3 linked regions of the Homo sapiens genome follow. The protein of the gene in region 2 purifies or fractionates together with the protein of the main gene of each other region. This does not show direct contact. Each region holds a gene or a part of one and is shown on either strand. Other genes may lie near its edges.

Region 1 (3,655 bases), on a different chromosome or scaffold from region 2:
AAGGATTTTCCTTCACTTTTGATAAAATAAGAAAAAAGGAAATTAAAACCTTGCATCCTAATGTAAAATAGAATTATATGGTGTTTAATATCAGTGTCTCTTTAGCTATTATATTAAACTACTATAGTTAATACATTTTATCATTATTTTGTATGTTGGTTTTTAAAAATTTCATAAAGCTATAAAAAGATACTTGGTCAGATAAAGTTTCCTCTGCTTTTAATTTTGATAAAGTATTATGTATATGATTTCTTTTTACCTATTATATATATGCATCTATTGTTTTCTCACTGGTAAATATGGGACGGACATTTTGTTAGAAGGTTAGAAGTGAGTTAAATTTTCACATTCCCAAGGGTACTTTTGTCTCGGGTTGTTGAATATATTTTAAAGTGTTTATAATAATCACTTCAAAATATTTAGGTAATTAACTGTAAATTATGTTTTGGTATTCTCCAGGGACAGTGGCCTTAGAGCTATTGAGAATTTGATGCAAAAGAAGGGGAAATTTGATTACATACTGTTAGAGACCACTGGATTAGCAGACCCTGGTAAGAAGTGAGATTATTAATAACCAGAATATAGTTCTGTGATATATTGTAAATAGATGTATTAGAGGAATATCTAAAATGAGGATTAAAGCTTTTGTTAGTATTAAACCAAAAACTTTTTTTGGTTTAAAAGAGGAAAAGTACTCGGTTGTCATTTTCTTTGGCAGTTGAATGAATGAACAGAGTATTTCTTGGTACTTTTAAGCTGTTAATAGAATTTGAAGTTTTATTGATTGACTTAGGATTATTTGTAAGAACAGAAGTTGTTAAAAATAAGGACATGTAGGAAGAGCAGAGACGTTCTACCTCTAAGTACAGTTGTCCCTTGGCATCCATGGGGTATTAGTTCCGGAATCTCTGAGGATACCAAAATCTATTAATGTTCAAGTCCCTTACATAAAATGGTGTAGTATTTGCCTATAAGCTATGCACATCCTCCCATATACTTTAAATCATCTGTAGATTACTTATAATACCTAATACAATGTAAGTGCTGTGTAAGTAGTTATTACACTGCATTGATAAGGGAATCATGACAGGAAACTCTGAACTCTACTATGGAAAGCTACACAGAGTCAACCTGTTTCTAACAATGGGTTTCTGTTACCTTCTTACCAAGCTCTAATTCTTGATAAAGTCTGCTTATTTTCCCCAAATAACTTTTAGATAAAATCTTTATTTTCATTTTGCATAAAAGTTAGTGCTTATTCTGTGAATCTGACCCATACCATTATTTTTTTTTTTGATCTGGGTCTCTGGCATTGGGGCGATTTGTAAAACTATATTAAAGTATTTGGGGGTAATTTACTCAACAGGTCATAGTTGTCCAAAAGAAATATTGAAGTATCCTGAGAGTTCAAATGTGATCAGTGGTTATTGTACTTAAAACAATTACATAATAACATCATCCCCATGTTTTCAAAGTAGTATTGAATTAGGCTATTTTGGTCCTTATAGTAGGCATGGGTTTTCATACCTTTCTGATAAATCTGACTGATGATAGGACTTGGACTAATATGTTGGTGTTAAATATTTGAATCTGGTAAGAAAGAAAAATATATTGTATGCTTTTATTAGAAATAGCAAATATCAGTTTATTTCATCATAGCCAGTTTTGCCATTTTATAGACAAAAACTTGATACTTTTGAGAGTTTAATTAAACACGATTCAGCTTTTCAGAGGAAGAAAGAAAAACTAAAGATCACAGAGAAAGCTTTTATACAAATTGTAGTTATAAAAAATGTTAATGTTTCTTGCTTCTAACTTTCTTTACAATAAAGATTTTATTGTTTGGGTAAAGATGGAACATTCATTGTAAAAAAATTTAAATACCTAAAAAATACAAAGAAGAAAGTTGAAAAGTAATCATCTCACTTTTGTGATATACAAGTAGGGGCTGGGCATGGTGGCTCATGCCTGTAATCCCAGCACTTTGGGAGGCTGAGGCAGGTGGATCCCTTGAGGCCAGGAGTTCAAGACCAGCCTAGCCAACATGGTGAAATCCAGTCTCTACTGAAAATTCAAAAACTAGCCAGGCGATGTGGCGCACCCCATAATCCCAGCTACTCAGGAGGCTAAGGCAGGAGAATCGCTTGAAAGCTGGGAGGCGGAGGTTGCGGTGAGCCGAGATCACGCCACTGCACTCCAGCCCAGGCAACAGAGCAAGACTGTACACACACACACACACGCACATGCACATGCGCACACACACACACACACACACATTCATACACACACACACACAAGTAGGTACATTTTATTCCAGGGATCTCTCTATGCCAGTGCTACTTGGTAGTATGTTGAATGGCAGCCTCAGCCTCAGCTGGGAGCTTGTTAGAAAGGCAAATTCTTGACCAACCCAGATCTACTGAATCGGAATCTCTAAGGGAGGGGGTCAAGCAAGCTGTTTTTAATAAGCCCTTCAGGTGATTCTTATACTGTACAGCCATACCGCAGGGATATTGTGGGCTTAGTTCCATATCACTGCAGTAAACTGAATATCACAATAGAGTGAGTCACACACATTTTTTTGTTTCCCATTGCATATAAAAGTTATGCGTTTTGGCCGGGTGTGATGTCACAGGCCTGTAGTCCCAGCTACTTGGGAGGATCACTTGAGCTCAGGAGTTTGAGGCTGCAGTGAGTCATGATTGCACCACTGCACTCCAGCCTGGATGACAGCATGAGACCCCATTTCTTAAAAAAAAAAAAAAAAAAAAAAAAAAGCTGTGTTTATACTATACTGTAGTCTATAAAATGTGTAATAGAATTGTCTAAAAAACATACATACCTTAATTAAAAATATTTATTGCTAAAAAATGCTAACAATCATCTCAGCTTTCAGCAAGTCATAGTCTTTTTGCTGGTAGAGGGTCTTGCCACGATGTTGATGGGTGCTGACCAATCAGGGTAGTAGTTACTGAAGGTTGGGGTGGCTATCGCAATTTCATAAGATAATAATGAAGTTTGCTGCATTAGTTGACTCTCCCTTTCATAAAAGATGTCTCTATAGCACATGATGCTATTTGATAGCATTTTACCCACAGTATGACTTCTTTCAAAATTGGAGTCAGTCCTCTCAAACCCTGCTTTATCAATTAAGCTTCTGTCATATTTTAAATCCTTTGTTGTCATTTTGACAGTGTTCATAGCATCTTCACCAGGAGTAGATTCCATCTCAAGAAACCACGTTCTTTTCCCGTCCATAAGAAACAACTTCTCATTAGTTAAAGTTTTCTTATGAGATTGCAGGAATTGAGTCACATCTTCAGACTCCCCTTCTAATTCTAGTTCTCTTACTGTTTCCACCACATCGGCAGTTATTTCCTCCATTGAAGTCTGGAATCCCTCAAAGTCATCTGTGAGGGCTGGAATCATCTTTCAAACTCCTATTCATGTTGATACTTTGATCTCCCATGAATCACAAATGTTCTTAATGGCATCTAGAATGATGAATCCTTTCCAGAAGGTTTTCAATTTACTTTGCCCAGATCCATCAGAGGAATCACTGTCTATGGTAGCTATAGCCTTATGAAATATATTTCTTAAATAAGACTTAAAAGTCAAAGTTACTCCTTGATCAGTGGGCTGCAGAATGGATGTT
Region 2 (3,655 bases):
AGATGACCTTCAATCCTGCCCCCTCCCGCATGACCTGAGTGGGTTGACACATGGAGCCCTAGAAGGGTGAGATGAATTGGGGGTGGACAGAGTGGTTCGGACAGGGATGGCTCCTATGGTGACCAAGTCAGGGCTAGACATGAAGAGTGGAAACCAAGTCATTTTTTCCAGGGCACGGGCTTGAGGAGAGGGATGGTGGGCAGGCAGTTTTGCCTGGGTTGAGGGTATCTCTCGAGGCCTGGCATTGGGCTTTGGAGATGCCATCCTGGAGGTTCATCTTAATAAAAATAAACATTTTAAACGTTCACTTTTATTGAGGACTTAGTGTGTGCTGAAACCTGGGAATATTGAGTTATCTCATTTAGCCCTGACCACGTTTGTTGTTGAATGAATGACTATGAAGGACGCCCTGTGATCCCCATTTCACAGAGGAAAAAGCTGACAGTCCTAGCAGCGCACAGCTGGAAGGGGGCCTAGGTAAGGACCTAGGCCATGGGATGCAGGCCCCAGGTGGTCAAGCTGAACAGCCTCTCCTGGCATGTGCCTGGCATGTCATAGGCCCTCAGGGACTTGTGTTGAGTAGGCCTGCGGCTAATAGAGAGTGGCTGCCCTACTTCCTTCAGCCACCAAGCTGTAGATGGTAGTGACAGGGCGCTGGTTATAGCCCCCAAAGGAAGTAAGCAAAGGTCAGGGTGATGCTCTGGGCATTGCAGGTTAGGGTTCTGGCTATGGGATCCACTTCCGTGTCAACATCTGCTGCTGCAACTTGTCTGCCGCCTTGGTGGTCCTCCCATGCCTTCTGTGTATGTCCCTACACAGTGTCTTGTGTTTCCCAGAGCCTTGTGATCGCCTTTGGCCCTGGACACATGCAGTCCTCCCTGCTTGGGACATCCTCTCTTTGTTTAGCAAGGTCCTACTCATCCTTCAAAACTCAGTTAAGGTATCACCTCTCAGGAAGCCTTCCTGGGCTCATCCATCGGGATGAGATCTGCCTGTGTGGTCCCAAAGCCTTCGGTACTTAATGGTTGATAATTCCAACTAGTGTTTGTTGAGGCCCTACGATATGCCAGCTTTGTATGCCTGTATCTCATTGACTCCTCCAGCAACCCTGTGAGGCTGGCATTATTATTACCCCATTTTGCTGATAAGGCAATTGAGGGCTTTGAAAAACTTGCTAACTTGCCCAACCAGTGAATGCTGGAGTTGGGATATGAGTCAGCCATGGAGCCTAAAATCTTGTGCTGTTTCTCTCAATGCTCTTTCTTCCGAGAAAGGCGTGGACTATGTCTTTCATTTCCATTTTTTTTTACTAAGGACACTAGTAGGTGTTCAATAAATGTCTTACTTTTTGTTGAGTGTCAGTCAGCAAGACATGAGGGAACACAGCAGAGGGCAATGGCGTCTACATCTTGCCCACTCCGCAGTGGTGCTCCTGGAAATGTGGATGCTCAGGAGTGGGCCAAGCTGGAGGGGAGTCAGGCAGGGCTTGGACAATCTCAGAAGAGAAGCTGCTTTGATTCCAATAAGGCCTGGAGTGACGACTCAATCTTGTGGGGGCGAAATGCTCTCTTTTCATATAAATAGGCCTCTTTGGTAAGGGAGAAAGCATCTTTATTACTGCTGTGCATAATTAGAACAGCGGGGAGGAATCAGGGGCTTTTAATGAATGAGCAGCGTGTGGCAGGGAATGAGTGAGCGCCTGCCACTGCGGGCACCCCCAGGCCTGGGCATCCCCAGGAGTGAGCGGGGCCAGCGAGGAGACGACCAAGGAAGCACAGGCAGTGCTCAGAATTGAAACCTGCCCCACTGAAGCGGGCCCTGCTGATCCTTGCTGCGTTCCTGTCATTGCAAATGACTCCCAGGCTGCAGCTTTGCAGATGCTGCTCTGAGCTCTGCCAGGACCACCCCTCTTCTTCCAGCCTTGACCGTGACCTGGCAGCCGCAGATGTCCTGCGGGGCTGGCAGCTGCTCCATGGCACCCCTTCTGGGCAATCCTGAGCTGCAGAGTTTTTGCCTTGATTTTAGTCCCCTTATTTTTAGGGTGGCCATATGTCCTGGTTTGCTGGAATAGTTCTAGTTTATGCCTCTTTTCCTAGTGAAATTAGTAATAATGATATCTTTCACCTTCTAAGTATCTCAGTTTGGAAGGTGAATTATGTGGTTGCGCTCCTTATCTTTGTCTTCTCAGCCATCCGGGCCTCAAGACGGATGAGGGAGGCAGTAGGGTGTGCAGGTAAACCTGGGCTTTGGTCTCAGATGCTTGTAACATCTGGGTTTAACGTTGCTGCATCTGTTTTTTCTGCTGTAGACAAGGACGATTAATAATCTCTGCTCTACTGGGGTGCTGTGAGAATGAAATGAGAGAGTATTTGTAATGAGCTTAGGTATGAGCCTGGTACACAGAGGGCTCTCAGTAACTTCCAGTCATTTTATTATCATTGTTAGGTTGATTTGGGAAGCGTAGTGGTTAAATGTGAGATCTGGGGCCAGACTGCCTGGGTTCAAATCTGTGCTGTGTCATTGACCTGCTCTGTGACCCTGGCAAGTTACTTAACCCCATAAAGCCTCAGTTTTTCTCATCTGTAAAGTATGGATTATAACAGTCTCTTCTTCATATGGCCTTTATGAGAATTAAATGAGTTTTTATATGAAAAGCACTCAGAGTAGAGCCGGGCATGAAGTAGACATTGAATTAATATGAGCAATTATTATTGGCTGTTATTGTTATTATGAATAAATGTCCCAACTTACATTCTTGTAGGCAGGAGGAATTATCCAGTACATTTGTTTCCTATTGCTGTTGTAAAACTTACCACAAATTTAATGGCTGAAAACCATACAAATTTATTATCTTACATTTCTGGAAGTCAGGAATAAGTCCAAAATGGGTCTCCCTGGGCTAAAACCAAGGTGTTGGCAGAACTGTATTCCTTCTGGAGGCTCTAGGGGATAATCCATTTCATTGCCTTTTCAAACTTCTCGAGGTGACCTGCATTCCTTGGATCGTGGCCCCTTCCTCCATCTTCCAAGCCCATCACTCCAGCCCCTGCTTTCATTGCCACATCCCTTCTCTGACTCTGCCCCTCCTCCTCCCATTCCCTTTCTAAGGACACTTGTATGAGGACCTCTTATTAGGCCTACTTGTGTAATCATTTCCCCATCTCAAGATCCTTAATTTAATCACATCTGCTGACTCCCTTTTCCCATAGGAGATAACATAGTCATCGGTACCAGGGGGCTATTATCGAGCCTCTCATAGCCAGAAAGATTGGAGTCTTGCCTAGGTTTGGGGTGTTGGAGAGTCTTCTGTGTCCCTCAGGAGCTGTCTGAAGTTTGGAAATGACTCCTCCTCCGTGTTGTACATTAGGTCAGGTTCCTCGTGCACCTGCTGCGGGTTGCCCTCCCTGGAGTTTGGATTGTGGATCAACCCTTGACTTCTATTCAATCTCAGTAGGGTCCTTAGAGACATTGTTACTTTTAGGGCTGATTTAGCCCCTTCTGAGGGGCCCATGACTCATTGAGATCTGAATAAAAAGGTTTATTGGCTCCCAAGCAGGGAAAACAATCAATGCATTAAACAAGTTATTGAAATGTCTATAAAATGTCACATTATATTTGCTTTTACTATGTAGCAAACCACCCCAAAGTTTAATGG
Region 3 (3,755 bases), on a different chromosome or scaffold from region 2:
ACCACCCAGGAGGGAGCACCATGGGTTGGGAGGAGAGCAGTAGGAAATAAATTTAGAGGTAACAGGACCTGGTTATATAGGGCTTAGTAAGGGACTGGAAAAATGTTGACTTTCAATCTGAGTGAGATGGGAAGGCATCACAGGGTTCTGAATAAAATGTTCTATTCTGACATTTAATAGGAACACTCCACCTGATGCAGAGAACAGTGACAGAGGCAGGCAGACCAGTAAGGAGGCTGTGGCCACAGTCCACACAAGAGATGATGATAGCAGGTTACCAAATGGGTACAGTGGAGGAGGTGAAAACCAGTTGGATTCTGGTTATGCCATGAAGATATTTTCAGGATCAAACAATACATACAAACATACTGGTGCATGGGCATAATGATTGATGATATCTGGTAGGGGTTTCAAGGTGACCTTGGGTGAAGAATAATCAAAGCTACATATTGGGTACAATGTACATTACTCGGGTAAGAGATGCAATAATATCTCAGACTTCACCACTGTGCAATCCATCCAGGTAACCAAAAACCACTTGCACTATTGCACAGCTACTGAAATAAAAAAAATACATATTTTTTAAATGTTACCACTCCTTTATGTTTTGGTTTTCAGAAATAAATTTTAAAAAATTTTTTAAAGAATAATCAAAGCAAAATCAATAGCATCTTTTATCCAGAAAAATAAGAGTGAAGAGCAGGAAAGGTTAACCTCATTAAGCCCTATGTCCTATGAGTGGAGATTTTAAATAATATATTAGTGATCACAGTCCAAAAACTCAGATTAGTCATTGTGCTTATCACCTGTGTTTGAATAACAATGTTTCTTTTTCTTTTCTGAATTCAAGTTCACAAACCATTTTGAATTTTTGCATGCCAATTATTTCCAGAATGCCGAACTGCTTAAAGGACATGAATATTACTCGGTGGAGCTATTAATGTCCCAGCAAATAAGAAAGAACAAGTTGTTTCCCTGTTGTTGGCTCTACAGCTCTATAGTTTTCCAGAGAGGGAGAAGGGTGGTGTTCAGATTATCATTCATGATGAAACTTTTAAAAGATGCTCAGCTGCCCACCAAATCATAGGATGAAGGAAAGGGCCTAGCAGAAACACAGTTGCTCTGACTTCCCTTCAATGGACAGCACCAAAGTCATACTGAACACCAGTTTTTAAACACTTCTCTGAAAAACAATAAGAAACACTTAGCCCTTTGCTACCAAGACCTGGTTGAAGAAAATGCTGTTGGTTCCCTGAGGGCTGGCTCTGTAGTCTTGTTCATTTCTGCATCCCCGATGTCTAACACAGTGCCTGGCATATAACAGTTGCTCAATAAACATTTGTTTGACTGAATAAACGATTCGAGAAGCCAATGGACAAATGTTCTTTGACATCATTCTATCCCTTTATGGAATGTCTATTACAAGCAAAGAATAACACAAGAGGAGTTTCATAATACTCCTCAGGCCCTGAGGCTAACCAGATCTGATTTCAGCCCTCACTTTACCACTACTCGCTATAGAGCCCTGGTCAAGTTCTCTCCACCTCTCTATCTATGTCTCAGTTTCTTCATCTGTAACATCAAATGAATAATAATACCAATCTCCTAGACTTCATAAGAGGATTAACAAAGACAAAATATGGGAAAAACATAACATGGCGTCCCATAATTATTAGATCTTATTATTGACACTAAAATGGCATTAAAATTACCAAAAGGAAGACAGCATCTGGTAAGTAAACTTTATTTATTTATTTATTTATTTTTTTGAGATGGACTCTCGCTTTATCGCTGCCCAGACTGGAGCGCAGTGGCGCGATCTCGGCTCACTGCAAACCTCACCTCCTTGACTCAAGCAATTCTCCTGCCTCAGCCCCACTGAGTAGCTGGGATTACAGGCACACACCGTCACGCCTGGCTAATTTTTGTATTTTTAGTACAGACGGGGTTGCACCATGTTGGCCAGGCTGGTCTGGAACTCCACACCTCAAATGATCCACCCACCTCCGCCTTCCAAAGTGCTGAGATTACAGGTGTGAGCCACCGTGTCTGGCCACATCTTGTAGATAAACTTTAAAAATCTTTTTTCTTTGTTATGAACAATTTTAAGTACATACAAAAGTAGAGTATAATAAACCTGACACCCAATTTCAACAGTTATCAGCTCATGGATGGTAACCCCCTTTCCCAGGCCTTTGTATTATTTTGAAGCAAATCCCAGACATGACACCATTTCATCTGTAGTACTATAATAGGTAGCTCTAAAAAAAAATAAAAATAATAACCAAAATTCCACATCACACCTAAAAACAATGAAAAATGATTCCTTAATTAGATAAATGGTTGGTCTGCTGGAAGCCACAAGAAGAAAGGAAGAAGAGAATCAAATCTGTTCAAGACAGGGGCTTAAGCAAGTTCTCTCCAGAGTCAACACGATGATGGAAATACCCGTTGTCACCGTCAAGGTGGACTCTCCCTGCTGCGGAGTGGGGCCGAGGTCGGGGGAGGGCAGGGAATGAAGCCAGCATTTCATGCCTGAAAGGAGGCAGAGCGGAGATCCCCTAGTGACTAAAACTTTCTTACTTCCCAAACAAAACAGCATTTCATTTGAAACAATTCTGTACAAATTCTTCTGCTTCCAGATTGATGGGAAATTAGAATTTAATTTTATCTTTTCATCTACCTTGAGGCCTTGTTGACAGTGTTGGCTTTTATGCAGGTTCTATTACACAACTAGAGCTAATTGAACAGTGACAGAACTGGTCTGGTTTGTGAAATTTAATAGAGCACCAAAGCTCACGTTTTGGGGAGAATTCAGTTCTTAAATATGTTTTGCTTATCCCACTCCGCCTAATTTCCCCTCATTTGTTTGACAAAGTCAGCAACCCAGTGGAAACCTCAATTTCGTTCTCTGCTGCTCTCATCATAAAACCTCGAATTTAAATATTTTCCTTTTATTCTTAGCTGGAACTTGGAGCAATTTGGTGGCTTCAAAATGAGATCTATTGGTATTGAAGCCATTGAACATCAATAGTGCAAACCCACATTATCATCCCCCATTTAAATACCAAAGTAAATGTGAAGTGGTAAACATTAGCAGGGAAGTGAATAACAATGCTGAGAAGGTTGCAAGCTAAGGAGCATGAAGAGGTGAAAAGGGAACATAAAACGTGCTGCATGTTTCTTCTTTCAAAGCAGAAGCTACCTTATAAGCACCAAAAACTTCAGCTGGAGGAGATACAAGCCTGGATTCAGAAGACTGCCGTAGAACAGAGGCACTGGGAAACCTGATGTTATCCACACAAACCTTTCCACATAGGGCTGGCCTCAGAAAGCATGCAGCGCAACTGCCCTCCAATAACTGAAATTTGTTAAATGAAAATTGATAGTGGCCTGGTCCACTGGGATCTGGTTTCTGAGGAAATTTCTGATAAGCTCTCTTCTAAGACCCTTTGCTCAGGAATAAGGTTTTCCCTGCGTGGCCCCAGCTCCACCCAAGGCCTCACAGTCTCAGGCACCCGAGTGTCTAGAAATGTTCACAGGTGCTGGGTCATGGGGTTGGGATGGAGGGTCTACACTTGAGAACAACTCCTCTGCTCCTGTCTGTATGCAGAAGGCCATTCTTCCCTTTCTCTTTGAAGACTCTGCCTCCTCCACATCAGCAGCACCCAACCCTCTCCTTTTAGCACTTTCATTTTACCTGCTTCCCCTCCTACATTCTAGTCTTGGTTAATGGTTGTGATGGAGGGTGGGAG

What was found.
Region 1: the proteins of HSPA12A (region 2) and ZNG1A purify together in Homo sapiens (affinity purification with mass spectrometry; 2 studies listed by BioGRID and IntAct, with this or other methods). This does not show direct contact.
Region 3: the proteins of HSPA12A (region 2) and IL22RA2 purify together in Homo sapiens (co-immunoprecipitation; one large-scale study listed by IntAct). This does not show direct contact.

Annotation. Positions count from the first base shown.
Region 1 is NC_000009.12:168,977-172,631, reverse strand, and holds part of ZNG1A (zinc-regulated GTPase metalloprotein activator 1A), read left to right. Parts: exon of another isoform or gene 1-143; intron 144-459; coding exon 460-551; intron 552-3,655. UniProt on the Homo sapiens protein: Zinc chaperone that directly transfers zinc cofactor to target metalloproteins, thereby activating them.
Region 2 is NC_000010.11:116,736,031-116,739,685, reverse strand, and holds part of HSPA12A (heat shock 70 kDa protein 12A), read left to right. Parts: intron 1-3,655. UniProt on the Homo sapiens protein: Adapter protein for SORL1, but not SORT1. Delays SORL1 internalization and affects SORL1 subcellular localization.
Region 3 is NC_000006.12:137,171,390-137,175,144, reverse strand, and holds the start of IL22RA2 (interleukin-22 receptor subunit alpha-2 isoform 1 precursor), read left to right. Parts: upstream 1-1,500; 5' UTR 1,501-1,732; intron 1,733-3,755. UniProt on the Homo sapiens protein: Isoform 2 is a receptor for IL22. Binds to IL22, prevents interaction with the functional IL-22R complex and blocks the activity of IL22 (in vitro). May play an important role as an IL22 antagonist in the regulation of inflammatory responses.